Linked DNA regions of Homo sapiens: regions 2 and 3 are each linked to region 1. Evidence: fine-mapped expression QTL. A gene starts in region 1. Each other region holds a variant in brackets. All regions are shown on one strand. Distances are from middle to middle.

What was found. PIP is the estimated chance that this variant, and not a neighbour inherited with it, causes the effect.
Region 2: its variant is fine-mapped to the expression of EEIG2 in whole blood (TOPMed, PIP above 0.99). The same link has a PIP of 0.9 or more in cerebellar hemisphere, cerebellum and transverse colon.
Region 3: its variant is fine-mapped to the expression of EEIG2 in lymphoblastoid cells (GTEx, PIP above 0.99).

What each region holds. Positions count from the first base shown.
Region 1 is chr1:108,554,685-108,566,164 of GRCh38, reverse strand. It overlaps EEIG2 (EEIG family member 2), which reads right to left and starts at 6,065. Exons shown (of 11, transcript NM_001010883.3): 1 at 5,600-6,065. The coding sequence starts at 5,736. RefSeq lists enhancers at 4,862-4,911, 5,375-5,474 and a silencer at 5,865-6,404.
Region 2 is chr1:108,630,367-108,637,651 of GRCh38, reverse strand. EEIG2 (EEIG family member 2) reads right to left here. Exons shown (of 11, transcript NM_001010883.3): 11 at 1-2,544. The coding sequence ends at 2,502. Among named protein-coding and RNA genes, the nearest start is that of HENMT1, 27 kb to the left of the region's middle. The variant C/T (reference allele first, on the strand shown) is at 2,472.
Region 3 is chr1:108,532,739-108,544,218 of GRCh38, reverse strand. No RefSeq gene overlaps it. Among named protein-coding and RNA genes, the nearest start is that of EEIG2, 22 kb to the left of the region's middle. RefSeq lists an enhancer at 7,058-7,352 and a cis regulatory region at 10,019-10,594. The variant A/C (reference allele first, on the strand shown) is at 5,873.

The sequences.
Region 1 (11,480 bases):
TACAATAGAATAATATGCACCATTAAAATAATCTTGTAATTGAATATTTAATGATATGAAAAGATACATGAAGTAAAAAACCATACTAAGTATAGTATAATCTCATTTTGGCTTAAAAAGGGTATGTGATAGTTGTGTGGGGGAGTGTGGTCATACATGTATGTGTACAGATCAATAAAGGCTCCTAATTTCTATACTAAAATATTTATAATAGTGATTATCCCTGGGTGGTTCATTTATGGGCAATTTTTGTTCCTTTCTTTCTGCCTTTCTATTTTCTAAGTTGTCCATATGAATCTGTATTACTTTTTCAATAAAGAAATGTTTACTAAAAAGAAATACACAATGTGCAGTGAACTAAAATCTTGAAAACAGAAGGATGTACTCTGGCCAAAAGAAAGAAATCCTTTCCGCTTGTTTAGAGTAAAAGGTCCAATACATAGATGTGCTCATCAGCTTCCCAGACACTCCCCAAATTCACATGTGTTTCTGCCACAGCCTCATGTGAAACTTAGAAAACTATTTGGCTATCAGCACAAAAAAAAAGATGAACAAAATAAGGCAAACTAGGGAATTCTAAAAGATATAGAAAAAATTTCTTCCTATTATTCCTTTGTTTAAGTAGGCCAGAATTAAACCTGCCATGCCAGTTTTAATAAACCTTAAAAGTGATTTAAATGCTTTTGCAAAGGAAGTACGGTGAAAAGATTTAAATACAATAATACTGTCCTTTTGAAACATCTTCAGAAATACAGTCATGTACTGCATGAGGACATTTTGGTCAACAACAGACCAAATACACGATGTGGTCAGAGCAACAGGCTATACGACATAGTCTAAGCACGTAGTAGGCTATACCATCTAGGTTTGTGTAAGTACACTCTATGACTTTTGCACAATGATGAAATCGCCTAAGGATGCACTCCTCAGAACAGATCCTCATTGTTAACTGATACATGACTGTATTTTATTAGACAACAATTTAGCCTCAGTTGAATAGACCACCATAATCGTACAATGTATTTTCCAAATATTTTATTAACTATGGCATGTAAAAATCTGACAATTTACCCTGACCATTTTAATAATATTTATTACAAATAATTACCTTTTAGTCTTTATATTTTTCCAATCTCTTCATTGAAAACAATACCAAGAAAAACTGGCTTCTAAAATTAATTTTCACTAATAATCTTTATTTTTATTTATTTATTTTTGAGACAGAGTCTTACTCTGTTGCCCAGGCTGGAGTGCAGTGGTGGTGATCTCAGCTCACTGCAACCTCTGCCTCCCGGGTTCAAGCGATCCTCCTACCTCAGCCTCCTGAGTAGCTGGCATTACAGGTGCCCACCACCACATCTAGCTAATTTTTTGGTATGTTTTTTGTAGAAATGGGGTTTTGCCATGTTGCCCAGGCTGGTCTCAAACTCCTGAGCTCAACCAATCCGCGTGTCTCGGCCTCCCAAAGTGCTGGGATTTACAGGCATGAGCCACTATGCCTGGCCTTTTTTCACTAATAATCTTTAAAAGGGTAAAAACAATGTAAGGAAATTCTAAATAAGTTTAGTAAGCAGGCCTATATGGCTCCAATAGACAACATCTAAGAAATCCACATACCGCATAAATGCCTCCCACTACTCATCAGGCTGTCACCTCAAATGTAGCATGCTAAGCATACAACTTAACCCACTATATCTTCCACCACCATATGCAATATTCCCCTTAAACAAAACAAATAATTTTCCTGACTTCTTTACTTCTGTGGTGGCGTCAAGGCATCTGTCATAAGATTATCATTTATCAGTCACTTACATGAGACACCTCGGAGTTCAGGTTCTCATTAGCTCCTGCCTGGGTTATTTTAATAGCCTCCTAATTTGTCTCCCCATCTCTAATTTCCCCCCCACCCAACCTTGAATACAGATAGCATCAGCCTGTCAGCCAGGTGATACGCCACTTTAACCACACAACAACTCAGTTCAAGAATCTTAGGTTTAATTTTACCCTATGAGCAGTAGAAAGCAACTCTCATTTATAGAAAGAGAGTAGAAAGAAACTCTTTACAACAGTATTCAAAGTCTTTCTCTAATCTTATCTTCTGCTTCCATTCAACATGAACGCTCTGCAATCAGGCTGATCTATTATCAACTCCTATTGATGACTTGCTCAAGCTGTCCTCCCATCCTCACTTTGTCAATGCAAACTCATCCTCCCAGAGTGCTCCACAGAAATGCCAATGTGGTTGTCAGTAACCATTACAGTTGTAAATTAACTCTTTTGCTTTAGAATTTCAACAACACTCAATATATTGTCTGATCCATTGATTGGGCACTAAGTCACACTGTCTTCTACTGTCAAGCAATTATACATCTATGATCTAATTTCATTAGAAGTAATTCCCTTGTGGATCCTTATATTTGTTGTACTTCTCACAATCCCAGATGGAGAGCTATTAATAGAAACCTGGTAAATGCTCAACTAATACTTGGCCAAGAATAAATGATCTGCATGTTTAGTTGTTGTACAAAGCCAAATATATTAATATATATATCAAATACATATGACCTATATATATTTGGGTCTCTCTATTTATATCTATATATGCAATTTTCTGTGTGCCTCTAAGGCTTTTCTGTAGCAAGATGAGTATTATTTTATAAAGGTTCATCCATCAGGGAGTCTCCAAGACCAATCCTAAGTTTGGTGATTCATTAGGACTCACAGGACTCAGCATACAGTCCTACTCATGGCTAAGGTTTATTACAATGAAAAGATACAAAGTCGAATCAGCACACACTTAACTTCTCTAGAATTAAATTGTGATGTGCTGTCTACCAGGGAAACTCATTAGAGACTCAATGCCCAAAATTTGTATTAGGGCTGGTCACGTAGGCTGCCTAGCAAGAACCAAAATTCCAGATGGAATTTAGCATAAACCACTCCGTACAGTCTAGGCACAGTGAGCCACTCTTATCATTTACGTAAAGTTTTGTATCATGTATGGAACCATTTACCATTCAAGCTCCCAGATGCCAGCCAAGGGCCAGCCTTGTACATAGGCCTTTCTAAGAATAGCAGTCTTGGGCCTGCTATATTACCTCTTTTCTATGTAATTCATTTCATATTTTTACAGGAGAAATGTTACAGTGTTAACTACACCTGACTTTTAAGGGGCACATACAGCAATTTTTTAGAAGTTAAAATCTAGCGTTCAATTAGAGATGCACTGCCTTGACTGGCACCCACTAATTAAAAGTTCTGTGATTTTGAAATAATTCACTTCCTTTAGATATTTCAGATTTTCTTTTTTTTTTTTCTTGTAAAATGAGGTCTCTTTCTCAAACCAACAATTTTGTAGTTGTTAGGATAAAGGAATCAAATATAACATCTCAAGCAAATGGACCTTCTTGGACAAGTTCCTGGTCTCCTCTTTAAATGCCAACTGGGTGCTAAGGCACTGTTTAGGTGTTTTGGGCACATCATCTCACTAAATCCTCACACCACCACATGTCAGTGATGGTTTCTATTTTACATACAGAAGTTTTGGGACTCTAAGTAACCCATCCAGGTTTACCACAGTGGAACTGGGGTTTAGGCTTAGACTCACCGCATTCCAAATCCTTGCTCTTAGCTTTACACCAACTATCTCTACCTAATGTCAAAGGCACAGGCTCCTTATTGTGAGTCATTTCCCCCATACTATATGGCTTTTTGGTTTGGCTACACAGAGCACTATTCCTAATCTTACTTAAAATCAAATTGATCAAAGTCAAATTTTAATTGGAAGAAAAAGGGGTGAGTTTAACCCAAGATACTCAACTTTTTCATTTCTAAGTCTTGCGGAGTATACCCCTTGCTCATTAAAGTCATTAGGAAGCTCCCTATTCAGAAACTTTCATATATGGCACACGATTTATTCCTTTATCTGGCACCACCCTGTTTGAAGTTACACAGACCTGATCAGAATCTTGGCATCGCACTTACCAGCTGAGGGGACCTTAGGAAAGTTAGTTATGCTTTCTGAGCCTCAGTTTATTTATCTACGAAATGGAACCCCTACCTTATAGACTTGCTATGAGAATTAAATAAGATAATATATTTAGAAGCCAACACATATTTGCTGAATAAATGACTGCCTACAACGAAAGAATAAGTGACTTGTGGGAAGTAAGCCAAATAAACATAACTGAGGTAGGAAGGAAGCCCCGTAGACAAGTGCCCTGACCACCAGGTGTCACCACTGGCCCAGGAGCGCCAGTCTAACTGCCTGGCGTCGGGGGTGGCACCCTGCAGCAAAACAGTCTAGGCCTCAGGGCAAGACTGTCACCTGCACCAACAGGACCTTCACGAATCGGCTTAGGCTTTTCAACAAGTAAGAGATGGTCCAATATTTTTTTTGCACCAAAATAGGTTACATTCTTCTCTTACAGGTGTTTAAAATACTTAGCTGAATATCCACTGATGTGTCACCACAGTTTAATTTTAAAAACTGTCTTCGGCAAACTATTAATTTCATATATCCTTTGGTTTAGCCAACTAGACATTTTCTGGCTTCCATAGGCTTCAATATTGCCCCAAAGACAAGTTTCTAGCCCCAATTCCACAATCCAGTGACATTATTTCCTTTATACTATAAATGGGATGACGGAATTTTTTTTAAGTAGAATATTTTTAGGGCAGAAATAAAGCCTAAGACCAGTATATATGGGCAAAATAACATTAACTTTTAACCCTTCTTGATCTCAGGAACTCAAAAGTTCATTTAAAAAATTGTTTTCTCTCTCTATGTATATATTTTAAAGAAAGCACCTTAGGGTACATCTGTCAACCTGTGAGTAGCTCTGAAATTACTCAAGAAACACTGCCACACCTATTATTAATGCCACACCTATTATTTAATAGCTTCATTCTGTAACCTGCTAATGCCTCTCTCTGGGAGTGCCCAGGGGCTCATTTTAAAATGAGGGCAGGGCCTGGGCTCCCCATCTGGCTCTAAGCCCTCCCACAAGGAGACCTACTAGTGGCCACTTCAAGACTAATTCATCCAGCATTAGCGCCTAACTGGAGACGCCGCTCTCTGATGAGGCACAGACCGTTGTCTCGTCTGCCAGGAGCACTTGACTCAAGTCAAGCCTGGCCAGGCCTACCCCAGCCTCAGAGTGGGTGGCCAAGTCCCCTTGTAATCTACAAGGGAGAAGGAATTGTGCTAAGCACAGGTTTCTGTTCAGAGCTGGGCTCTTGGAACTCCTGCAGTTTGGGTTATTTTAGTTTTTAACAGCTCAAGTTCTACTTTGCATTTCACAAATATGGAAATGTCTTAAGAGAAAACAGAAGCATCCTCCCTCTCTGGCCATTGCTCCCATTCCTAGAGGATTTGGGAGGGAAGAGCAGATACCAGGCACCATCTGGAGTCAGGAGCGCAGGAACCAAGGCCAGCTGAGAAGAACCCATTTGCAAAGCACTTTGCAGATCAATAAATTCGACTGATTTTAGAGCGGTCCCTAGGGAAAGGCGAGCAAATGGGCCAAGGAGAGATGCTGCCCATCCAACAAGCCCTGGCCAAGCAGAAAGGGGCGAGGCGGCGCGGGAGGCGAGTTACCTGGAGGACTCGGCGGTGAAGCTGCCGCCGTCCAGCAGCCGCATCTTGCAGAAGAGGACCCCATTGACGAAGGGCACTGAGGAGAGCTCCTCGAGCTCGAAGTCCACCTTAAACTTAAACTTCTTCTTCTTCATCATCGTGAGAGCCAGGCGCCTGCAAGCTGGGCGCACGGCCGGGCGCCGCCGCCTCAGCTTGGCCGAGCCCCGGATCAGCCCAGCCCCATGGCCGGGGCCGCGAGCTGTGCGCGGGGGCGCGGCCGGGGGGCGCCGCAGGCCGGCCGCGGCCGGGGCCGCTGCCGCCGCCTCTCGCGGCAGCCTGGGCCGGAACGCGGCGGCAGCTGCGGCGCGGACCCCGACCGCCCGCGGGGAGCGGTCGTGCTGCAGCTCGCCCGGGGAGGTGAGCGCCCTTTTGGTGCTCAGCTCGCCGCCGCCGCCGCCGCCGCCTCCGCCGCCGCTGCCGCCCGTCTGGGAGTCGGGAGAGGCGAGGCTCGAGGAACCGCCGCCTCAGCGCCTCGGGGGTCGGGGGCGCCCCCAGCGGCCGCGGCCTGCAGCGCACGGCGGGGCGGAAGCCGGAGGGAGGGCGGGGACTTTGTGGGCGGGCGCGGGCTTGGCCGCGGACTCTAACCCGCGACGGCAGTTAGCACGTCACGCCTTTCTGGGGTTAAAAAAAGACAAACCCGACAGAGAAAGCTTCCTTCTACCGCTTCCTCTCCGCCTTTCTTTTCAGTTTTTGCACCGCCTCCTTTCTCCCCCACCCCCTCCAGTGGTTTCTTTCCTTTGGGTTTGAGAGCCATGGGTTAATAGAGGCAATTAAAATCTCAGCGTTGTTTTGGTCAAATTGAAATCCTAAAACTAAAATTTCCGTTAGGTACTCTAAATTCACGAGCCTTCAAATATAAAAGGAAGATAAGGTAGGAAAAAGGAAAATGATGTGCTGAGGGACTATCAAGGGCCCAGGCACCGTACTGCTGCAGGCGCTTTCTCTGGGGTATAGCTTATCTAGTTCCTGTCACCCAGGACAAAAGATAAAAGAGCAAAGAAGCAGTTAAAATAATACCCTCCCTTTAAAAATTTGTCTGTCTATACTGAGAACTGAAATGCTTAAAATCAAATTCTGCAGGCAGTCTGGCATGGCTACGCTGTAATCCCAGCTACTCGGGAGGCTGAGGAGGGAGGTTAGCCTGAGCCGGGGAAGCGGAGCTTGCAATGATCGGAGATCGCGCCACTGCACTCTAGCCTGGGCAACAGAACAAGCCCCTGTCTTAAAAACAAAACAAAATCTTCAGAGCAGGCTTAAAAAAAAATCTCCCTAGGGGAATAACAATTACCTGCCTTCTGTAATCATGCATGTATTGTTACAATGAATGTTACAAAGTTGGTTACGTGATGTTCATGTTTTTAAACTGAGTTATTGTCATTTTCACTCAGATTCTGCCACAGTAATTCTGAAAGGGTTTAATTGAAAATATTTTCTTTCTCAGTTTACTCGTTTACTCATTCATTCATATAAAAAAATTGCTTAAAATGTCAATCATCGGCTAGACCCCATAACCAAAAGCCAATAACTGCCCTCAAGAATTTTACAATCTAGTGAGGAAGACATGTTTAGACAGGTCATTAAAAAAACACAACCTAGCACCAAGCTATGTAGAACTCAGAGAAGCAATTAATTGAAGTTAATCAGTTTTCTGAATTTCAAAGGATGAAAATGATTTGGGACAAAGTGGGGTAAGTTGTTCTAGGAGAAATAAATTAAAAAAAAAAAAAGATTCAGAGGCAGGTTCGGGGGTGGGGATTTGGTAATGGATAAAGCTTCTTACCCTGCAGGACAGGGGGCAAAGACAGTGAGATGCATTTGGGGACTTTGAGATTTGTCATTTAGAGCACTGGATGAATGTTAATTTCATTGACTGAACATTGAAAGCAAGAGGAGGGCAGGTTGGGAATGGAAGAGATAATGAGTCTTTATGGGATCTGCTTGCAGTACATCTAGGGAGAGAGAGGCAGCCTTAGCTCATAAAAATGCATTGGCAATTGAAAATATACATTTGGGAATTGAGGTAATCGCTGATGGCTGAAGCCCAAAAGGTGGATAAGGATGAGTTACTCTGAAGAATATTTAAAGGGTAGGCAAAGAGGAGATCGTGAAGGTGCCTAAGAACAAGCAGTCAAGAGAAAAAGGAGATGAAGAAAGAGATGGCCTGGAAGCCCAGACGGTTTTAATCATGTAACATTCGTAGTTACAAAGTTCTATTGTGTGCCAGGCACTATGCTGGGTACTAGAGATGCAAATGAATAAGACATAGGGGCTTATAAAGGAATGGAGAAAAACAGAGATATGCAAACAGATCAACTAAAGTGTGTGTGTGTGGTATGTGAGTATGTGTGTGTGAGAGAGAGAAGAGAGAGAGAAAGAAAGAGAGAGAGCAATCTGTGATCCATGTAGGACAGAGGACCATTTCAAGAGAGTGCTGCAGAGCAGTCCCAGAGGATTTGGACTGAAAAGAAGCTACTGAATTGAAGGTCTAGGAGGTCATTGGTAATCTTGGCAAGAGAAGTCATCATAAAAGATAGTGACAAAGTAAGATGAAAAGTGACAAAGTAAGTGAAAAGATGACAGTGAAAAGTAAGATAGTGACAAAGTAATGTGGGTAAATAAAAATTATATTTTTATTGATGTTTTTCTGATTTTTTTGTCAGCGAATGAAAAGAGAGAGAGAATGGTGACCAGAGGAGGACAGTTCAATCTTTTTCAATAACATTCAGGAACTATCCAATATTTATTGAGTGTCTATTAGGTGCCAAGCACCTTAATAGGTCCTATGGATTTGAAATGCCGTCCCTGTCTTAGATCTCACGGTCTACTGGAGGACACAGAGAAGTAAGCAGGCAGTTGCAGTACAATGTAACACTGAGTGCTGTCTGTGTATGATGGTGAGTGGAGACTGCTGTGGGAGACTATAAAAGCTAACAGGGATAAGTAGTAGGTTTATGGAATGCCTTCTAGGGTAAGTGAAGCCTGAATTCAGGCCTTTAAGCTGAGGCCTGAATAATGAGCATGGGTGGGGAGCAGTTTCCAGGAAGGAGGTAGTGTCTGTGCAGAGGCTCAAAGGAAGAGAGACCATGTTGCAGAGGGAACTGAAATTAGTTCTGTCTGGCTGCAACTTAGAGTTGGGTACAGTGACAGGGGTTAACAAAGAGCCATTGAAGTTTTAAAGAAGAAGCATGATATATTCAGATTTACATTTTGTAAAGCTCTTCTACTTTATAAAATGGAAGATAGGAGACAGTCTGTTACTGTTTTTTAGACTCATGGTTTGATTATTAAACCCCTGATAGGAGTCATAGTCAAGGCAGGAAACAGATATCATATTCAATGTGTTTAAATGGGGAAAATTTAATGAAAGGACTCTTCACAGAGTTGACAGGGTAAGGGACCCACAGTCTGGTGAGAAGTTGAAAGGAAGAAGGGATAAATATCCTGATTTCTCTCACCTCCTACTTTCTGATCTCTTGGTGGTGCTTCCCATGATCCAAAACCAACCAAGGCCAGAGGGTAGAGGGGCTCGGAACATGCAGTTCATACAGGACAGACTCCTGGGGCACAAAGTAGGGCACTGAAAGGTAGAGAATGGTTGGAGGTAAGGGGATGGAAAGCCACTAGCACACAAAGGATACAGTCAGGGTTCACCATAGGAAGCTGAAACCACTCTGGATGTTTCAAAAAAAAAAAAAAAAAGGGATTTCATTCAGGCACTTCACTGCTTCTGAAATCTGTGGAAGGGCTGAAGGGGTTGAGGTCAGCAGACTGTCGAATTCAAAGTCACATGCTTTGTGGTAAACATTACTAGTGTTCACTAGTATCCGGTCCTCCTTGATTTCTGAGCATATGGGAGTTTACAGTTCCCAATTCCCTTGCGGTTAGTGGGGCCTTGTGATGAGGTCTAGCCAATAAAATGTGAGAAGTAACACGTCACTTCCAGGATGAAACAGTGAAAAGCCTTTGAGCAGTTCTCTAGACTACCTCTTCCCTGCCACAATAGTTATAGAGGAGACCTTGGGTTAAGATGTAGCAGCCACAAGATTGAAGCAGCCCAGATTTCTTAAGTCAGCACATGGAGAGCAACTGCCCACACCTGCAGGAAACATTTTGTCTGTGAGAAAGCAACTTTTATTATATGAAGCCACTGAGATTTTGGGGGATGCTTGTCACTACAGCATAAGTCTAGTTTATTCTGACTAACATACACTGCAGCTGGGATGGGAAGCTGACACTAGAACACTGCTACTGCTGCTGCCACCACCACTGGCTCACACCTGTCAAGACTATGAGGAGTCTGAATGCCACAGGCATGTCATCACACCTTGCTTGCAAGTGACACAGCAGTAAGAAGAGAGCCTCCATTTCACTTGCACCTGTGTTTTCATAAGGAAATTTATTTGGCAGGCCTTATTTGCACCCAAAAATTGAGTGGCAAAGGAGTCTGAGAAATGTAATTTTCAGCTTTCCAACTTCTTCAGATAGGATGGTGGAATGAATGTTGAGGCTAAGTATCTACTCCAGTACTTATAATTCAAGTTTCTTAAAGGCAGGGATGGTTTGCTGATCATCTTTGTATCTTTTCTAAATAGCCCAGTACCTAGTGGGTATTCAATACATGTTTCTTGAAATGACCTGAATTTATAGACCTATCCTAAGTGTGTTAACTCTCAGGTAAAACAACAGAGTGAATAGACATGTGCTAAGACTGCTTACTGCCAGAGGTGTGACAATTCTTACAGGTTTATTCAATTCCCTTGAAAAGCATTTACTACCCCTTAAAAATGCGTACACTCCCCCTTTACCTCTCCCCTACAAAAAGGATATTTAAGTCTCAACCCTCTGGTCTTTCTTTGAGTCTCATATTCGCAGGACTACTCTGTCCATGTGCACTGATAAATTTGTATGCCTTTTCTCCTGTTAATCTGTCTATTGTCAGTCATTTCAGCAAAGCTTCAGAAGGCAGAGGGGAAGCTTTCCCATCAATCTTATACCTACAATAATTTGGTAAGAAAGTAAGATATCTATGAAACCCATAGTTCTATAAGAGGTTGAAAAATGGAATGTTAGTAGGTTATATTTATGGCTGCATTCAGTAAGATATTGGAAACATAAGATGAACTCATGCAATAATTAGCAGGTTTGCAAGCATAAATTAAAAGGAATATAGAGAGTCCAGAAATTTGGAGCCTCAAGGGATGGGAAAAACTAACTGCTCTATACCTCAAAGAATAGGAAATAAGATTGAAAAAGCTCTTGAGCAACAAGGGCCCATTAAGACTCAGCCGTGAAACAAAGATTATATTTAGGGTGTGGTCTTCACATTTAAGTCTGATGTTCTCAAAGTAGCCTCCTTAAATTGAGAGGAAGAGAGGAGTGAAGAAGCAAAGAGATAATCAGGATTGAGAATTATCTCTAGGAAACCTCAGTGTTTCTGGCATATGGAACTGACTGGAAGCAAAAAGATCAAATACTTTTCAGTTTTTGAACTACTGTATTGCTAAAGAAATCATGAGCCTGCGTTAAAAGTTGTACTCTCCTCAAGAAAGTCACGTTCCTCGACACTCATTTTAAATGTGGGCTTAGAGGAAAAATTTCCAGAGGGCAGAGCCAGGGACCACAGAGGACAACAGATAAGCAGATTCCTCACAGATAATGGAAACAGGGTGTAGCTGAGAAACAGCTCCCACTGCCAGCTCAGAGCCATCACAATGCCTCCCTGCAAAATTTCATTTTTGTGATGGGCCAGGGTCCCACTTTTCCCCCTTTCCTACCTGGAAGTATTTACTATATTTGTTCTATCATTATACATTGTGTGTGAGTGAGGGAAGATATTTTATTA
Region 2 (7,285 bases), 74 kb before region 1:
GAAAAAGTATTGTATACATCTGCAAATTCTTCAACACTGGGTGATTTGAAATTTGACTTTAATATTTAAAAATAAATTTATTAATAATCTAAATTTTCAAGTCAAATTTTCTAAACTCAAAACATAAACAGAAGTGAACTTGTTATTTAATAAACAGATTTTTTCAACAGCTATATGGTTAAGATGTTCTTAACCATGCTCTCAGAAAAGGACAATCAGAAAGTAAGGCAGACACTTAGGCAACCCTTAGCGAGTATTTTGAAAGGACTGCACTGAAATTTGAACACAAAGTGTGCCAATGGAACACAAAATAGAAAATGGATCCAGACTTTTGCTGACTACAGAAGACATAGACATTAGTTCTTTTTTCTTCCTTATCAGTGTTTCTATTTATTAAAATATTTGTTATATTTACTACTACATAAATCAAGGTGTATCTGATGGCTGCTAAGATTATAAAGGCATGATTTTTATGCTTTTCAAAATCTCTCTACTTTTTAAAAAGAATTCTGTACCATTTAAAATACTGAGAACCAGTCTTGTATAGAGAGGTGTCGGACCAAGGGCAGCCAAGGATGAGTAAGATGGGCATCACCCTGATTGCAGCACCTCTTACGTGTCTGATGAATGTCCTCACTGAACCCCACTTACAATCTAGTTTTATCATTTTCAAAACTGCAAAATCATTTGCACAGCACCAATAAAAATATAGCCTAGAAATAATATTTTGAAAATAGAAAAATATGTTTTTAAAAAATGTCATAATAAATATCTCTCTAAATAATATCTTCATATCTCTATAAAAAACTTTCTTTGATTTTTCCCATAATATATAATGAACGGATCAGTTCACATGAAGACATAATGCAAGTCTTTACCACTTAAGTCCCTTGGTTAGGCTAAAATGTTCAGGTCAATGTTTTATTCTTAAAAATAAATCTTAAAAAATAAAAAGTATAACTCAGAACATTCTCTCTCTCAGAGTCTCTCTACATTCAAAATATAAAACAGGGTATCATTTTTTAAAAACTTCCAGAATCTCTTTGTTGGAATAGTATTGGATTAATGCAGAATACTCAATCCTTGAAATATAAAAAACAGCAACATAAGTTCTAATATTAACTATTCAAAATTTTCCAAACCTTTAAATTTGGATATTAAAATAATATAATTTCCTCCTTATTTTTGCCAACGTGAAAACACCTAGACCAAAGTCATTCTATTCTGACATATTGTCTTTCTTGGATATGACTTTGAAAGTAAGAATTGGGGAATTACTGGTTATACAGATTCTACATTTTTCTTCACTAATAGTGATTCCAAGAAAGTTTAGATCTTTCCACATGGAAACCGTCATGTAAGAACAGAAAAACTCTAAGGTTTATCTGCTGTGCTGCTCAACTGGATCCAGACCAGGTATTCTTATTTTAAAAGCTATATTTGATAGATGTTATATTCTACTCTTGCTTCAAAACAAATCACTTTCGACACAGTGGGGAAGAAAACAGTACCTACAGAGAGCTAAAATGGAAACCTAGTAGTCTGCATCAGTCATGGCAAGCAGCTGTCATGCTGCTACCCACCACCACTTCGGAAAACTGTTAGCCTCAGATAAGTCTGAATTTACATAGAAAAGGCTTCTCTGTTTCTGACCATATTACAATTCTCCTCTTTTTCTACATTTTGACTCCTGAAACCAGCAGATCTTAATATTCAATGAGTTAAGATAGCTCTTCTGTTAGGGTGCCCAACACAGTAAGTGTTAAACTTATTTTGAGTCTTTTATGTAGTGCTTGGGGGTGGTTCTGCAGCTCATCTAATATTAATGACAATTAACAATATATACTGCATAACGGCATTACATCCATTCACGTATCTCTGACTTAAATGCACTTGTTATTTCATTTATGACTGATACACTGAGAATTATGAATAAGCACATCACATGTTTAAATTGTAGTCTAACATTTTCCCAAAGCATGAACACCCACACTTTATACAATGCTGTAGGTAGTGTAATAGGGAAGATTTCCAGAACAGGAATTACAACTATCTTGACAAAATCTATAGGGTTTAAGTTATATTCATGTACTGTCTCTCAAACTAAAAAAACCAAACCATAGAGCCCAAATCTATTGAGCCTCTTGATCACAGATTTTTACACTTGAATCCTAAAATGATACTCCGATGTATATAATGCTGTTTTCTCCGCTGGGGTGTTCTGAAAGAAAAAGCAGGCTTTTCATTATGATGTGCAGTGACCACAGAAGCCAGGTGCTTCCAAGGCACACAGTGGCACAGTGCCTGGAGACTGCCATGTAGATGTTCCCCTTTGGTGGCTGGTACAGGATGGCGGTGGGTCCTTCCAGAGAAGAAACCAGCATTGGCTTTCCTCTTGATAGTTGAGGTTCATTTTCTATTAAGTGCTTGAATAAAATGCCTTGATACATCAACTACTCACATCTTAAATC[C/T]ACAAGGAAATGTTTTCACCGACTTGACTTCTAGCGTTTGATCACAACTTGTTCATAAGCTCCAGACCCCACCCTAAAACAGCAGTGGAAAAAAACTTCAAAATTTTGAGCTGCAGTGTTTGAAACTGTTCCAAGTAACCTTACCCCTGGAGAGATGGGGCACTGGGTATTTTTCTACTAGATTTGATTTCCATAACGTTTAAAGGCATCACGGATAGAAACTATGTGAAATATTAAATGTTTATCATTAATACATTGGATTAGCCTAGATCCTGATTCTCTCACACTTATTCCCACAATAATCTATTAGAATTCCCCAATTCTTGACCTATCGACAAATGGTGGCAAGAAATGCTCTTCAAACATGTTTATCTATTCATTCTAAAATAGGTCTCATCCAAGAGCATATGTTGACTCTGGCAGTGCATCAGGACTTGCACTGAGTTAATGATGATGGTCTTCAGCTGTCATAATATTGTGGCGTTTTCATGGCAGGGTCTCATTCTGTTGCCCAGATGGAAGTGCAGTGGCATGACTGAAGCTCACTGCAACCAGAACTCCTGGGCTCAAGCAATCCTCCTAACTCAGCCTTCCAAAGTGCTGGATTACAGGCATGAGCCACCACGCCTGGCCCATTACTGCCTGAAGTTATCACCAGGTACCCATTTCCCAATTTGTCAAGATGTTAGGGTATACCCTACTACTTGTCATTTTACCATGAGTGTGCCTGAGTTTAGTAAGCCCAGAAGCAACCACCATGACTAGTGTCTCTCCTTAATGGCATTTTAAGAGGAAATTCTAAACAACAGAAGTAAGGTAGTGATTACTAGCCCACCATGGACTTGGCTGGACTTCTCAGTTGATTGCCCAGAAACTCCTGTTCTCACAGATTCATTCTACAGAAGAAATAGGAACTTCCTCAACAGAATGCCAGTGAGCACCCATTCATCCTACAGAAAATCAGAATTTGAAGAAACCATGGTGGGCAGCATGGCACACTGGCTTTTAGATGCCCTTTTAAATATGTTCTGCCTCTGGCCATGATGAAGTAACAGGAACCAGATTTTCCCTCCTGCCTTATATAATTAGAAAACCGGATAGAATAAGTGAAATGACAGTTTGCACATACTAGACAACAGGCAGTGCAGGACTGTGGTCCCAAGAAACAAGAAATAAATGAAGAGAGCCCGACAACCGCCCCAGCTAGCTGCCTGAAGCAGTTTCCTTCAGGATCTTCCGAGCCTGCAGTGCAGAGAGGAAGACCCCAAACACAGCCTGCTGGTCTCTCTGAGTGAAGGAGTCAGAGATCAAAGCTCAGAGGGGCTAGGGACTAGAATTTGTAGATCAGAATAACAGAAGGAGGGGTTGGGGAAAATAATGGCTGGAGAATTCCAGATTTGATGAAAACTGTAAACCCATAGATCCAAAAAGCTTGATGAACCCCAGGCAGAATAAACACAAGGAAAAACATATTCAAGGCACATCATAGCCAAAGTGCTAAAAACCAGTAATAAACAGAAAATCTTAAAAGCAGCCAGATATAAAAGACAAATCACATACAGAAGAATAAAATAAAAATACAGGCAGACTTCTTGTCAGAAAAAATTTAACGTCCCTAAAGGAAAGCAGGCAGGTGCATGCCGGTCCCAGTAAGAAAACCCAAGTGGGCCAGGCTGTATCCTGGGCAACACAGCAAGACCTTGTGTCCACAAAAAGTTAAAAAAGAAAAGCTGGGCATGGTGGCTCACACCTGTAGTCCTAGCTACTCAGGGGCTGAGGCAGGAGGTTCGCTTGAGTGCAGGAATTGGAGGCTGCAGTGAGCTGTGATCACATCACTGCGCCCCAGCCTGGGCAACAGAGTGAGACCTTGTCTTTCAAAAATGAAAACCAAAAAATGTTACATAAGTCATCTAATTTAGTCTTACATCCTATGAGTTCAGGATCTTATTTATCACTCTCATTTTATAGGCAAAGAAACTGAGACTTACAGAGGTCAACAGTATCAATCAATAGTGGAAGAGCTAGGACTTGATCCCAGGCAGTCTAAGACAGCCCGTGCTTTTGACCATTTACTATTTAAATGCCTTTTGGTTGAAGGCTTGGCACAACGGCTCATGCCTGTAATCTCAGCACTTTGAGAGGCTGGAGTGGGAGGATCACTTGAGGCCAGGAGTTTGAGACCAGCCTGGGCAACACAGTGAGACTCTGTCTCTATAAAAAAAAAAAAAAAAAAATGCTGGGCATGGTGGTGCATGCCTGTAGTCCTAGTTACTCAGCAGGCTGAGCCCGGGGTTGAAGGCTGCAGTGAGCTGAGATTGTGCCGCACTCCAGCCTGGGTGACAGGGTGAGACCCTATCTCTTAGAAAAAAAAATTCCATTTGGTTGGAACTACCTTTTCTGCTGTTCTGTACCTAAATTAATAAAGCCAGGGCTTACTGAGTATATTATGTCATTTACCCTTTAAAATTACTCCATGAGATAGGCATGGTTATTCCTACTTTTCAGCAGAGGTAACTAAAGTTCTATTGAAGTTAAGTGATTTACTCAGGCCCCAAAAGTGGTCTGGCTAGGATGTGAACCCAAGTCTCTAACTCAAAAACACATGTTCACTCCATCATTCATACCACTGTCCTCATAAATGTTACTTTTCTACCTAGTTCCCCCTGCTACTGGTCTTTCCTTGCTCTAATCTACCCTTCAAATTATGGCCGGTTATTTTTCTAAAATGCCAATCTGATAGGTCACTTCCCTGCAAAGATGGCCAATGGCTCCCCACTGTGCACATGAGAAGAAGAAACTTTGTTATGGCAAGTGAGGCCCTTTACAACCTAGCTCAGAGATGCTTGCCAACCTCATGCCCCTAAATACCCTTTCACAACCCCCTCTCCTCAGAAGAACCTGAACTATGTTATATTATTAATGAGCCAGTAAAATATACTGGTTAAGTACAATGGGATTTGGACTCAAAGAGACATGAGTTTTAATCTTGGTTTTACCACTTACTAGTTTTAAGGCCTTGGGCAAATTACTTCTTCTTCTTCTTCTTTTTTTTTTTTTTTTTTTTTTTTTGAGACAGTCTCATTCTGTCGCCCAGGCTGGAGTGCAGTGGTGCAATCTTGGCTCACCGCAGCCTCCACCTCCTGGGTTCAAGTGATTCTCCTGCCTCAGCCTCCCAAGTAGCTGGGATTACAGGCGCCCGCCACCACACCCGGCTAATTTTTTTATTTTTAGTACAGATGGGAGTTTGCCATGTTGGCCAGGCTGGTCTTGAACTCCTGATCTCAAGTGATCCACCTGCCTCGGCCTCCCAAAGTGCTGGGATTACAGGTGTGAGCCACCATGTCCAGCCTCAAATTACTTCTTTGTATCTTTGTTTCCATTAAAAAAACACCAAACTAATTGTAGTATGTTGTGAGCACTGAAAGATACTACTACATAAGAATTGAATAAAAAATATATATGTACCTGTGCCTGGCACATAACTAATAAATGCTCAATGCTACCTATAATTGCTATATGTTTATTATGATATAATTATATATCATAATTACTGTACTTATAAACTCATTCTATTTGTTACCAGGAGTATTTGTATTCATCATATTCACCTTATAAGCCCCCCACTTATTTTTTATTCTCCCAAAGTCTCTCTTCAAGTGTGAACTCTGAGATCCTGTTTCTGTTCTCTCAAACTTCCCTCTATTACAGTATTTATTATAATGTTATGACTTTTAGTTTGTCCATCTCATCTGTAAAAAAGAGTCAGTAAATATTTTAGGCTTTGTGGGCCACAGAGTCTCTGCTGCACCACTCAGCTCTGCTACTGTAGCATCAAAGCAGCAGTAAACACTATACAAATAAACAGGCATGGTTGTGTTCCAATGAAACTTTATAAATACAGGTAGTGGGCCAATTTGGCCTATGGGCTATAGCCTGCCAGCCCCATGTGCTAGACCATAAGCCAGCAGAGGGTAAGAGCTGGGTCTTTTCTACTTGCATCCTTACCTACAAATTGGCCCAAGAAACAGTTACTGAATTTAATAAGCAGATGAGTCAATCAAAGATCTAAATAGTGTTACATCTTCTGTAAATCCTTTTTCACATTACTCCCTGAAAGTAGCTTTATATGTCTCTCTCTTACCTACTTATGATATCTGATTGTAGTTAATCGTTGATGTAGGTTTTTGCTGTTAGTCTATTTTTGAGCCTTGTAATGTGCTGGACAAATAGGAGGTACTCATTAAAATGAGTATTAGTAAAAGAAATGAATGCAAAATTCTTTTAGGTTTTGACCACGAGAGAATACAATAACTGTCTTGGTCCAAGGAGCTACCCACCTGCAACTGTGACTCACTCTGTAGTTGTGCAGGGACTCTACATAAATACGACATGGAATGGAATTAGGGGTGCACAGAAGTGTGGGGAGCAGGTTGTTAAGGAGCAAGTGAGTGATTAGAATTCCTACACTGTCCTTGGTGTCTGTGCTCACTATTATCTGCTGCAGTGCTGATAATCAATGTAAGTTTGGCAGGTGACTTTTCTTCATCTGCATCTGAATAACTAGCAAAATGGTATTTGGTTTTTCAGAACTTTTCTTTTTTTATTATTATACTTTAAGTTTTAGGGTACATGTGCACAACGTGCAGGTTAGTTACATATGTTTACATGTGCCATGTTGGTGTGCTGCACCCATTAACTCGTCATTTAACATTAGGTTTATCTCCTAATGCTATTCCCTCCCCGCTTCCGCACTCCACAACAGGCCGTGGTGTGTGATGTTCCCCTTCCTGTCTCCATGTGTTCTCATTGTTCAA
Region 3 (11,480 bases), 22 kb after region 1:
AGAGACTGAAATTGCAACTCCTGCTTTTTTTTGCTTCCCATTTGCTTGGTAGATCTTCCTCCATCCCTTTATGTTGAGCCTATGTGTGTCTCTGCATGTGAGATGGGCCTCCAGAATACAGCACACTGATAGGTCTTGACTCTTTGTACAATTTGCCAGTCAGTGTCTTTTAATTGGGGCATTTAGCCTGTTTACATTTAAGGTTAATATTGTTATGTGTGAATTTGATCTTGACATTATGACGTTAGCTGGTTATTTTGCCCATTAGTTTATGCAGTTTCTTCCTAGCATCTATGGTCTTTACAATTTGGCATGTTTTTGCAGTGGCTGGTACCGGTTTTTCCTTTCCATGTTTAGTGCTCCTTCAGGAGCTCTTGTAAGGCAGGCCTGGTGGTGACAGAATCTCTCAGCGTTTGCTTGTCTGTAAAGGATTTTATTTCTCCTTCACTTAAGAAGCTTAGTTTGGCTGGATATGAAATTCTGGGTTGAAAATTCTTTTCTTTAAGAATGTTGAATATTGGCCCCCACTCTCTTCTGGCTTATAGAGTTTCTGCTGGGAGAGCTGCTGTTAGTCTGATGGGCTTTCCTTTGTGGGTAACCCGACCTCTCTCTCTGGCTGCCCTTAACATTTTTTCCTTCATTTCAACCTTGGTGAATCTGACAATTACATGTCTTGTGGTTGCTCTTCTTGAGGAGTATCTTTGTGGTGTTCTCTGTATTTCCTGAATTTGAATGTTGGCCTGCCTTGCTAGGTTGGGGAATTTCTCCTGGATAATATCCTGAAGAGTGTTTTCCAACTTGGTTCCATTCTCTCCATCACTTTCAGATACACCAATCAAACGTAGATTTGGTCTTTTCACATAGTCCCATATTTCTTGGAGGCTTTGTTCATTTCTTTTTACTCTTTTTTCTCTAAACTTTTCTTCTTGCCTTATTTCATTAATTTGATCTTCAATCACTGATACCCTTTCTTCCACTTGATCGAATCGGCTACTGAAGCTTGTGCATGAGTCACGTAGTTCTTGTGCCATGGTTTTCAGCTCCATCAGGTAATTTAAGGTCTTCTCAACACTGTTTATTCTACTTAGCCATTCATCTAACCTCTTTTTCAAGGTTTTTAGCTTCCTTGCAATGGGTTTGAACATCCTTCTTTAGCTCAGAGAAGTTTGTTATTACCAACCTTCTGCAGCCTACTTCTGTCAACTTGTCATAGTCATTCTCTGTCCAGCTTTGTTCTGTTGCTGGGTAGGAGCTGCAATCCTTTGGAGGAGAAGAGACACTCTGGTTTTCAGAATTTTCAGCTTTTCTGCTCTGGTTTCTCCCTATTTTTGTGGGTTTATCTACCTTTGGTCTTTGATATTGGTGACCTGCAGATGGGGTTTTGGTGTGGATGTCCTTTTTGTTGATGTTGATGCTATTCCTTTCTTGTTTGTTAGTTTTCCTTCTAGCAGTCAGATCCCTTAGCTGCAGGTCTGTTGGAGTTTGCTGGAGGTCCACTCCAGACCCTGTTTGTCTGGGTATCACCAGCGGGGACTACAGAACAACAAATATTGCAGAACAGCAAATATTGCTGCCTGATTCTTCGTCTGGAAGCTTCATCCCAGAGGGGCACCCACCTTTATGAGGTGTCAGTCAGCCCCTACTGGGAGGTATCTCCCAGTTAGACTACACTAGGGTCAGGGACCCACTTGAGGAGGCAGTCTGTCCGTTCTCAGAGCTCATATGCCATGCTGGGAGAACCATTGCTCTCTTCAGAGTTGTCAGACAGGGATGTTTAAGTCTGCAGAAGTTTCTGCTGCCTTTTGTTCAGCTATGCCCTGCCCCCAGAGGTGGAGTCAACAGAGGTAGTAGGCCTTGCTGAGCTGTGGTGGGCTCTGTAAATGGCTATATTTTGTTTGTTAGGTTGTTTGAGGGACAGGAGGGCCAAATCTTAAGGTATGTTGAGACACCCAGTATCATTTTCTTTCTTTGGCATGCTTCAAAATACTAAGAAAAGATGGGAGGTTGCTATGTGGGAACAGGAAGACTGCTACATACTTGGCAAGTAAGTTTGGCTGAAGAAGATTGTAGCAGAATCTCACCCTGATGGTTTTAATCCGTCAGGATGCAAGCAAAGCAAGAAAGCAAATGAACAGACAAACCAACACAACAACAAAATGCCAGAACAATAATTGTGGATGATAAAAAGAGGAAAAATTCCCCTCAGTGACGTGTAGGAAATGAAGCTGAGATAAATGCAGAAACAACTTACTTAAAAGCAAGTGTTATCAAAATTATTCAGGTTTGGCTTCAATTTTTGGCTTTACTTTTAGTGCAGAAGTGATTTCTTAACATGTAGCTTAGCTAATCAAGCACCTTCATTTGTGGAACCCTGTTTTCAGGCTAAGTATATTGGTCTTGCCCTAATATGATAAGCCTGGGCTATAGCATGAATCATGTTGCTGCCTTCAAGATAGAAGTTGTTAGTAAGAGAGGGATATAATGGTTATGTGGAATAGAGGGGGCAAGGGCAGGAGGAAAGGGCTCCATCTGTCTTTGCCGATTATGGTGACGTTAAGTATTGAAGAGTTCAGATGTCTTTTAATTTACCCTGTAGGTGTATTCCTGAAAAGTTGTATATAAACTGATTTATTTTGGTTGTTAATCAAATCTGAATGACTACCTCATATTTTCATAATTATTTTTATTTCATAGTGATTTGTAATTGGAAGCGATTTTTAATACTTTCATTCTAAGTTTCTCTGCTACTTCTTACCTCTCATGCAGTTAAGGCCTGCTTTGTAAATCCCAATACATATTTATTGTTTATGACTTTAAAAATTCCTTTAATGTGAAAAATGGCCCTTTCCTCTATTTTCTTAATTTAAACACTGAAAATCTGGAATTCTGTAATAATAATAATGTCAGCAAACATTTATTGAGTACCTACTATGTATTATACTATGCATTGTTCTAGTCTAAGAACTTCATTATTCATTTATTTAAGCCTTGCACTCTTATGAAACAGATGACATTATTCCTCCATTATACAGATGAAAAAACTGAGGCACAGGGAGATCAGGCATCTCTCTCAAGTTTACCCAGTCAATAAATGACAGAATGCTTGTATGTCAGGGTTTCCTAAATGTGGCTCATAACTGTGATTGAGTCAAACTTGGAAGGTTTTATGGTCACTTGTTTATAATCTATCGGGGAACCTGCCCCAATAGTCACATAGGTTCTTTTCTATTTTCCTTAAGAATTGGCCAGCTTGAGAAATAAAGGGACAGAGTACAAAAGAGAGAAATTTTAAAGCTGGGCGTCTGGGGGAGACATCACATGTCGGTAGGTTCCGTGATGCCCCAAAAGCCACAAAACCAGCAAGTTTTTATTAGGGATTTTCAAAAGGAGAGGGAGTGTGTGAATAGGTGTGGGTCACAGACAACAAATACTTTACAAGGTAATAGAATATCACAAGGCAAGTGGAGGCAGGGCGAGATCACAGGACCACAGGACCGGGGCGAAATTAAAATTGCTAATGAAGTTTTGGGCACCATTGTCATTGATAACATCTTATCAGGAGATAGGGTTTTGAGAGCAACCGGTCTGACCAAAATTATTAGGCGGGAATTTCCTCTTCCTAATAAGCCTGGGAGCACTATGGGAGACTGGGGTCTATTTCACCCCTACAGTCTACAGACCATAAAAGACGACCACACCTGGGGGGCCGTTTATAGGCCTATACCCCTAGGCGCGTATTCTCTTTCCCAGGGATGTTCCTTGCTGAGAAAAAGAATTCAGCGATATTTCTCCCATTTGCTTTTGAAAGAAGAGAAATATGGCTCTGTTCCGCCCGGCTCACCAGCGGTCAGAGTTTAAGGTTATCTCTCTTATTCCCTGAACAATTGCTGTTATCCTGTTCTTTTTTCAAGGTGCCCAGATTTCATATTGTTGAAACACACATGCTGTACAATTTGTGTAGTTAATGCAATTATTACAGGGTCCTGAGGCGACATACATTCTTCTCAGCTGACAGGATTAAGAGATTAAAGTAAAGACAGGCATAGGAAATCACAAGGGTATTGACTGGGGAAGTGATAAATGTCCATGAAATCTTTACAATTTGTGTTTAGAGATTGCAGTAAAGAGAGGCATAAGAAATTATAAAAGTATTAATTTGGGGAACTAATAAATGTCCATGAAATCTTCACAATCCACATTCTTCTGCCATGGCTTCAGCCAGTCCCTCAGTTTGGGGTCCCTGACTTCCCACAACAATAATCCATTAATCAATTTGTTTATTTAACAAATACGTATTGAGTTCCCACTCATTGGTAATGACTCTTCTATGCACTGAAGAAACAGCAATGGACAAGGCAAACAAAATTCCTGCATTCATGAAGCTTCCATTCTGGCAAGTGAGCAAATACGTAATATCAAATAGTAATAACTTCAAAGAAAAAAATAAAATAGAGTAAGAGTATGGGCAGGGACAGTGGGAGGATGCAAGGTGCTATTTTTGATAGATTGGACAAGCCTTCTTAAGGATGTCTGAATGAAGTGCAGGACAAAGCCATAAGTAGATGGTAGAACCGAGTTCCAAGCAGGGGAATAGCAAATACAAAGGCCCTGAGGCAGGAATGAGCTTGCTTCTTTCAAGGAACAATAAGAAGATTTGAGAAGCGTGTGCATTGGAAAGTGTGGTAGAAAATGAAGTCAGAGCAGCCAAGAAGGAGGAGGCCATGAAAAAATGTTTGAATTTTTTTGAGTGTATCAGAAAGCTGTACAAAGGTTTCAAACAGGGAAGTGGCATTATCTGATTTGAATTTTGAAAAGTTCATGCACCCTAGATGTTGTGTGAAGAACTCATTATATGGACATCAGCTATCACTGGATGAGATATGATGGTGGCTTAGATTCATCTGCTCACATGTGGAAGACTGTGGGAGGAGGTTTTTGGAGAGAAGTAAAGAGTTCTGTTGTGTACATGTTAAACTTGAGAAATTTTTAGACAGCCAAGTAGAGACTTTGAGGAGGCAGTTGAATATAGAAATCCAGAACTTCACTGGAATTAATAGCTCTGGAGATAAAAATGTGGAAGTTGTCAATGGCTAGATGTATGAAAAGGCTGGGACCAAATGTGATCATCTGGAGGTGAATATAAATAGAAAAAAGAGCCCACTATTCCTATCAAACTACTAACTTCATTTTTCACAGAAATAGAAAAGACTATTCTAAAATTTGTATGGAACCAAAAAAGCTCACATAGCCAAAGCATCCTAAGCAAAAAGAACAAAGTCAGAGACATCACATTACCTGACTTCAAACTGTACTGCAAGGCTATGGTAACCAAAAAAAGCATGATGCTGGTACAAAAATAGAAAATCACCAATGGAAGGAACAGAATAGAGAACCCAAAAATAAAGCCACACATCTACCGCTAGTAAGCAGTGGGAAAAGGACTCTATTCAATAAATGGTGTCTGGATAACTGGCTGTCCATATGCAGAAGAGTGAATCTGGACCCCTATCTCTTACCATATACAAAGATTAACTCAAGATGGATTAAAGACTTAAATGTAAGACCTGAAACTATAACAGAAGAAAGCCTAGGAAATATCCTTCTCAACATCAGCCTTGGCAAAGAATTTATGACTAAGTCCTCAAAAGCAATTGCAATAAAAGCTAAAATTGACAAGTGGGACCTAATTAAACTGAGGAGCTTCTGAATAGCAAGAGAAACTATCAATGGAGTAAATAGATGACCTAGAGAATGGCAGGAAATATTTGCAAGCTATGTATCTGACAAAAGTCTAATATGCAGAATCTATAAGGAACTTAAATCAACAAGCAAAAAACAAATAACCCTATTAAAAATGGGCAAAGGACATGAA[A/C]AGACACTTCTTAAAAAAAGATATACAAGCAGCCAACGAACATGAAAAAATGCTCATCACTAATCATCAGAGAAATGCAAATCAAATCCACAATGAGATACCATCTCACACTTGTCAGAATGGGTTTTGTTAAAATGCCAAAAAATAACAGATGTTGGTGGGGCTGTGGAGAAAAGGAAATGCTTACACATTGTTGCTGGGAATGCAAATTTGTTCAGCCTCTGGGGAGAGCAGTTTGGAGATTTCTCAAAGAAATAAGAATTGAACTACTATTCAACCAAGCAATGACATTACTGAGTTTATACCCAAAGGAAAATAAATCATTCTACTAAAAAGACACATGCACCTGTATGTTCATTGCAGCACTATTCACAATAGCAAAGACATGGACCCCGCCCAGGTGCCCATCAACAGTGGATTGGATAAAGAAAATGTGGTATTAATGCTTATATACCATGGATTACTGTACAGCCATAAAAAAGAATGAAACCATGTTCTTTGCAGCAACATGGATGCAGCTGAAGTAATGAAGAAACAGAAAATCAAATAACACATGTTCTCACTTATAAGTGGGAGCTAAACATGGGGTACACATGGACATAAGGAGGAGAACAATAGACACTTGGAAATACAAGAGTGGGAAGGAAGGGGGGCAAAGGTTGAAAAAATACCTATTGGGTTCTATGCTCACTTCCTGGGTGGTGGGTTTAATCATACTCCAAACCCCAGCATCATGCAATATGCCTTTCTAACAAACCTGCATGTGTACCCTGGAATCTAAAATAAAAATTGAAAAACAAAAGAAAGAAAAGAGAGCCCAGGATGCAATGAAATATATTTAATATTCTGTGAATATTCTTCTTCTTCTTCTTCCCATCACAAATAATAGCCATTGATGATCATTGTCTAGATTCATGAATTCATTAGGGTTTAATATAGTGGTAATCTAATTCTGTCATTCTTTCTTCAATTTACTTGCTGGAATACTTCTATAAGAGAAAATTCAATGACTTAACCTAATAAAAATTTGTTTTTTGCTCAAGCAATAGTCCAGTGAGGCTGCTGCTGATATCTTGACTATACTGGACTCTCTCCTCTAAGCACTAACTCAGATCACTTTCCTCTTGTGATTGTATGCTTTTCTGGGTCTTTGAAATCTTCTCTATTAAGGCGGTGAATGGAAAAAAAGAATAGGGGATCAGATGTGGCAAGATTTTACAGGCCAGGCCTGGAAGTGTGTTCTTTTTCTACCTACATTCCATTGACTACAACAGTCATATGGCTGTACCTAACTGCAAGGGAGGCTGGGATATGTAGTTCAACTGTATGTCCAGTAGGAAAACAGAAATAATTTAGTAAATCATTAACCAGTTTCTGGCCATATGGCCATAAACTTGAAAATACACAATCACGCTCTCTCCCTCCTCTCCCTCCTCTCCCTCCTCTCCCTCTCCCTCTCCCTCTCCCTCTCCCTCTCCCGTCTCCCTCCTCTCCCTCCTCTCCCTCCTCTCCCTCCTCTCCCTCCTCTCCCTCTCTTTCCACGGTCTCCCTCTGATGCAGAGCTGAAGCTGGACTGTACTGCTGCCATCTCCGCTCACTGCAACCCCCCTGCCTGGTTCTCCTGCCTCAGCCTGCCGAGTGCCTGCGACTGCAGGCGCGCGCCACCACGCCTGACTGGTTTTCGTATTTTTTTGGTGGAGACGGGGTTTCGCTGTGTTGGCCGGGCTGGTCTCCAGCTCCTAACCACAAGTGATCCGCCAGCCTCGGCTTCCCGAGGTGCCAGGATTGCAGACAGAGTGTCGTTCACTCAGTGCTCAATGGTGCCCAGGCTGGAGTGCAGTGGCGTGATCTTGGCTCACTACAACCTCCACCTCCCAGCCGCCTGCCTTGGCCTCCCAAAGTGCCGAGATTGCAGCCTCTGCCCGGCCGCCACCCTATCTGGGAAGTGAGGAGCGTCTCTGCCTGGCCACCATCCCATCTAGGAAGTGAGGAGCGTCTCTGCCTGGCCGCCCATCGTCTGAGATGTGGGGAGCGCCTCTGCCCTGCTGCCCCGTCTGGGATGTGAGGAGCGTCTCTGCCAGGCCGCCCCGTCTGAGAAGTGAGGAGCCCCTCCGCCCGGCAGCCACCCCGTCTGGGAAGTGAGGAGCGTCTCCGCCTGGCAGCCACCCTGTCCGGGAGGGAGGTGGGGGTCAGCCCCCGCCCGGCCAGCCGCCCCGTCAGGGAGAGAGGTGGGGGGGTCAGCCACCCGCCCGGCCAGCCGCCCCGTCCGGGAGGTGAGGGGTGCTTCTGCCCGGCCGCCCCTACTGGGAAGTGAGGAGCCCCTCTGCCCGGCTGCCACCCCGGCTGGGAGGTGTACCCAACAGCTCATTGAGAACGGGCCAGGATGACAATGGCGGTTTTGTAGAATAGAAAGGGGGGAAAAGTGGGGAAAAGATTGAGAAATTGGATGGTTGTCGTGTCTGTGTAGAAAGAGGTAGACATGGGAGACTTTTCCTTTTGTGCTGTACTAAGAAAAATTCTTCTTCCTTGGGATCCTGTTGATCTGTGACCTTGCCCCCAACCCTGTGCTCTCTGAAACATGTGCTGTGTCCACTCAGGGTTAAATGGATTAAGGGCGGTGCAAGATGTGCTTTGTTAAACAGATGCTTGAAGGCAGCATGCTCGTTAAAAGTCATCACCACTCCCTAATCTCAAGTACCCAGGGACACAAACACTGCGGAAGGCCGCAGGGTCCTCTGCCTAGGAAAACCAGAGACCTCTGTTCACATGTTTATCTGCTGACCTTCCCTCCACTATTGTCCTGTGACCCTGCCAAATCCCCCTCTGCGAGAAACACCCAAGAATGATCAATTAAAAAAAAAAAAAGAAAAAAAAAAAGAAAATACACAATCACACATTTACAATTTGTGGTAAATGCTGTAAAGTTAAATAATATATATGAATGAGAATAGTTGGCTGGGGGCAGAGAGCTATAATACTTCAGGAAAATCCTTTGCTATGAGATAATATTTAAGCTGAGACCTAACAAATGAGGACAAGAGTGGTAGGAGGAAGAATCTCCTAGGCATGTATGAAGGTCCTGAGGTAGGAAAGAGCTTAGAGAATCCAAGGACCTGCAAGAAGACCAATGCAGCTGAACCTGAAAAGAGAGTTATGAAACAAGGCTAGACAGGTAGGCAAGGCCCATATCATGCAGTGCTCCATAGAATGTGGTAAAGAGTTAGCGTTTAATCGCAATAGCAGTGGAAGGACATAGTATGATTAGTGTTTTTTAGTATTTAATGCTAATAGCGATGGAAAGGCATGATGTGGTATTTCTAACAGAGTGTTAAAATGGGACTCTTCCTGATTCACTGCAGCTGAGGGCCTAATTACCCCCACATTTCAAAGTGCAGTGAGTGAGATCATCTATGGCAGAATTATGAAAGAGGTGCTGAAACCACTTCTGTGGATCTTCACCCCTCTGCCTATCTTAAGGCTATATAGGAACTAAAATTGAAAAGGCCAAGGAGATAGTTGAGTTTTGGAAATTCCCATTGAAAGAATCTCCAATGCATCATGTCTTCCCTACAACCCCATGAGAGATTGGTAGGACAGGTATTTTTACCTTGCCTCAGGTGTGCTAGTGAGGGGTGCTCCAAGGAGACCACATGGAAGGTTTGACCTGTAGCCTCTGGAGTCCATGGGTCACAGAAATACCTGGTAAATAGCTTACTGTCATCAAAGTAAGGAACTGCATTTGGAAAGTTAACTAGTATTGACAGTTTGCATTGGCAGCTCCAAGGTATGAAATCCTTGGGAGGAATATATACGTGCGGTCATTTAAAAGGGGATCATGCTTAAGAGAACTTCTGTCCACACCAGACAACCTTAGCAGACAGAGGCTGGAGACGTGTCTTCAGATTCAGAAGCTGAACGTGGGGCTGGAGTGGGTATGTAAGCATCCAGCTAAGGTCGAGGCTTTGCCTATTTCAATGAGCTCCAATCAGCGGAACTTACAGAGGACTATCTAGGGTGAGGAGATCGAGACCATCCTGGCTAACACGGTGAAACCCCGTCTCTACTAAAAAATACAAAAAAATTAGCCGGGCGTGGTGACGGGCGCCTGTAGTCCCAGCTACTCGGGAGGCTGAGGCAGGAGAATGGCGTGAACCCAGGAGGCGGAGCTTGCGGTGAGCTGATGCGCCACCGCACTCCAGCCTGGGCGACAAAGCGAGACTCCGTTTCAAAAAAAAAAAAAAAAAAAAAAAAAGTCCTGAGAGTAAGAGTCAGCTTTAAACACCTGCCACGGCCAGAGTCTGTCAATGGTAGATTACGCCTGTGTCTGTCACACAAGATCTTTTCTGTTTCTTATCTCTCTTTCCTGGCCCCTCCAACCTTGGCTGGCTGAAGCGGCTGAGACAATGAAGAGGAGGAGGCCAGGAGAGAGGAGCCAGCCCCACCACAAAGGCCGCCAGCCCTAGCAGGTTTGGGGTTTGGGTGGGTGGTGGGGAGGAAGCATTAACTGTAATGAAATTCAGTGTTTCAACCAACACGCTGAACTGGGCATTTTTATTATTGAAATGAGACCATTTTGCGACTGAAAGAGAGAATTCGTATTAACTGACAGCACCAAAAAAAAGTCAAGGGACTTGCCCCAGGCGCCAGGAAAGAACCTGTCCTGCAGAGCCGGTTTGATCAGGCTGTTGGGAAGAAAAGAATAAAGTTGTTTTCTGTTCTCACTTCAAGGTTTCTGGTTCTGTATAAAAGTTACTTGTTTAAACAATCACACTGGTTGCTGTGTGGAAATCAGACCGGAGGATGGCAGGTGTGAGTGCAAAGGGTCAGTGAGGAGGGGACAGCTGGCTCCTCCACTTCCTAGCTGTGTGATATTGGGAAAGTCAGTTAACTTCTCTGTGCATCAGTTTCTTCATCTTCAAGTGGTGCTAGAATGCTTTATAGGGTTATTGAGAAGAATAAATCAGCTAATGCATTTAAAGCACTTAGAGGGGTACCTGACCCATAGTAAGGATTATAAGGTGTTTGCTACTATTTTTATTTAAAAAATTCTGATTGTAGCAGCCCCAATGTAAGACAGTGTTGACTTGGACTACCTTTAACCAGAGAGCGTGAAAAAGCTCATGATGTATTTTAGAATGATATTCAACAGGGCTTTGTGGGGGATGATTGGATATGGAGACTGAGGCAGAGGGAGAGGACAAGAATCGCTCCCAGGGTTCTGGTTTGGACATCTGGTTGGAATTGAGATGACTGAGTTTGAGCAGGACAAGAATGGTATACAAGCTTAATAGAGATTCCTGGTTACTGATGCTTCAAAAAGTATGCATTTTATTTTATTTTTTAGAGACAGGGTCTCACTGTTGTCTGGGCTGGAGTGCAGTGATGCAATCATAGTTCACTGCAGCCTTGAGCTCTTTGGCTCAAGTGATCCTGCCACTTCAGCCTCTAGAGTAGCTGCGACTACCGGTGTGTGCACATGTCCGGCTAATTTTTGCATTTTTTTAATTGTAGAGATGGGTTCTCACTATGTTGCCCAGGCTGGTCTTGAACTTCTGGCCTCAAGCCATCCTCCTGCCTTGGCCTCCCAAAGTGTTGGAATTACGGGCAT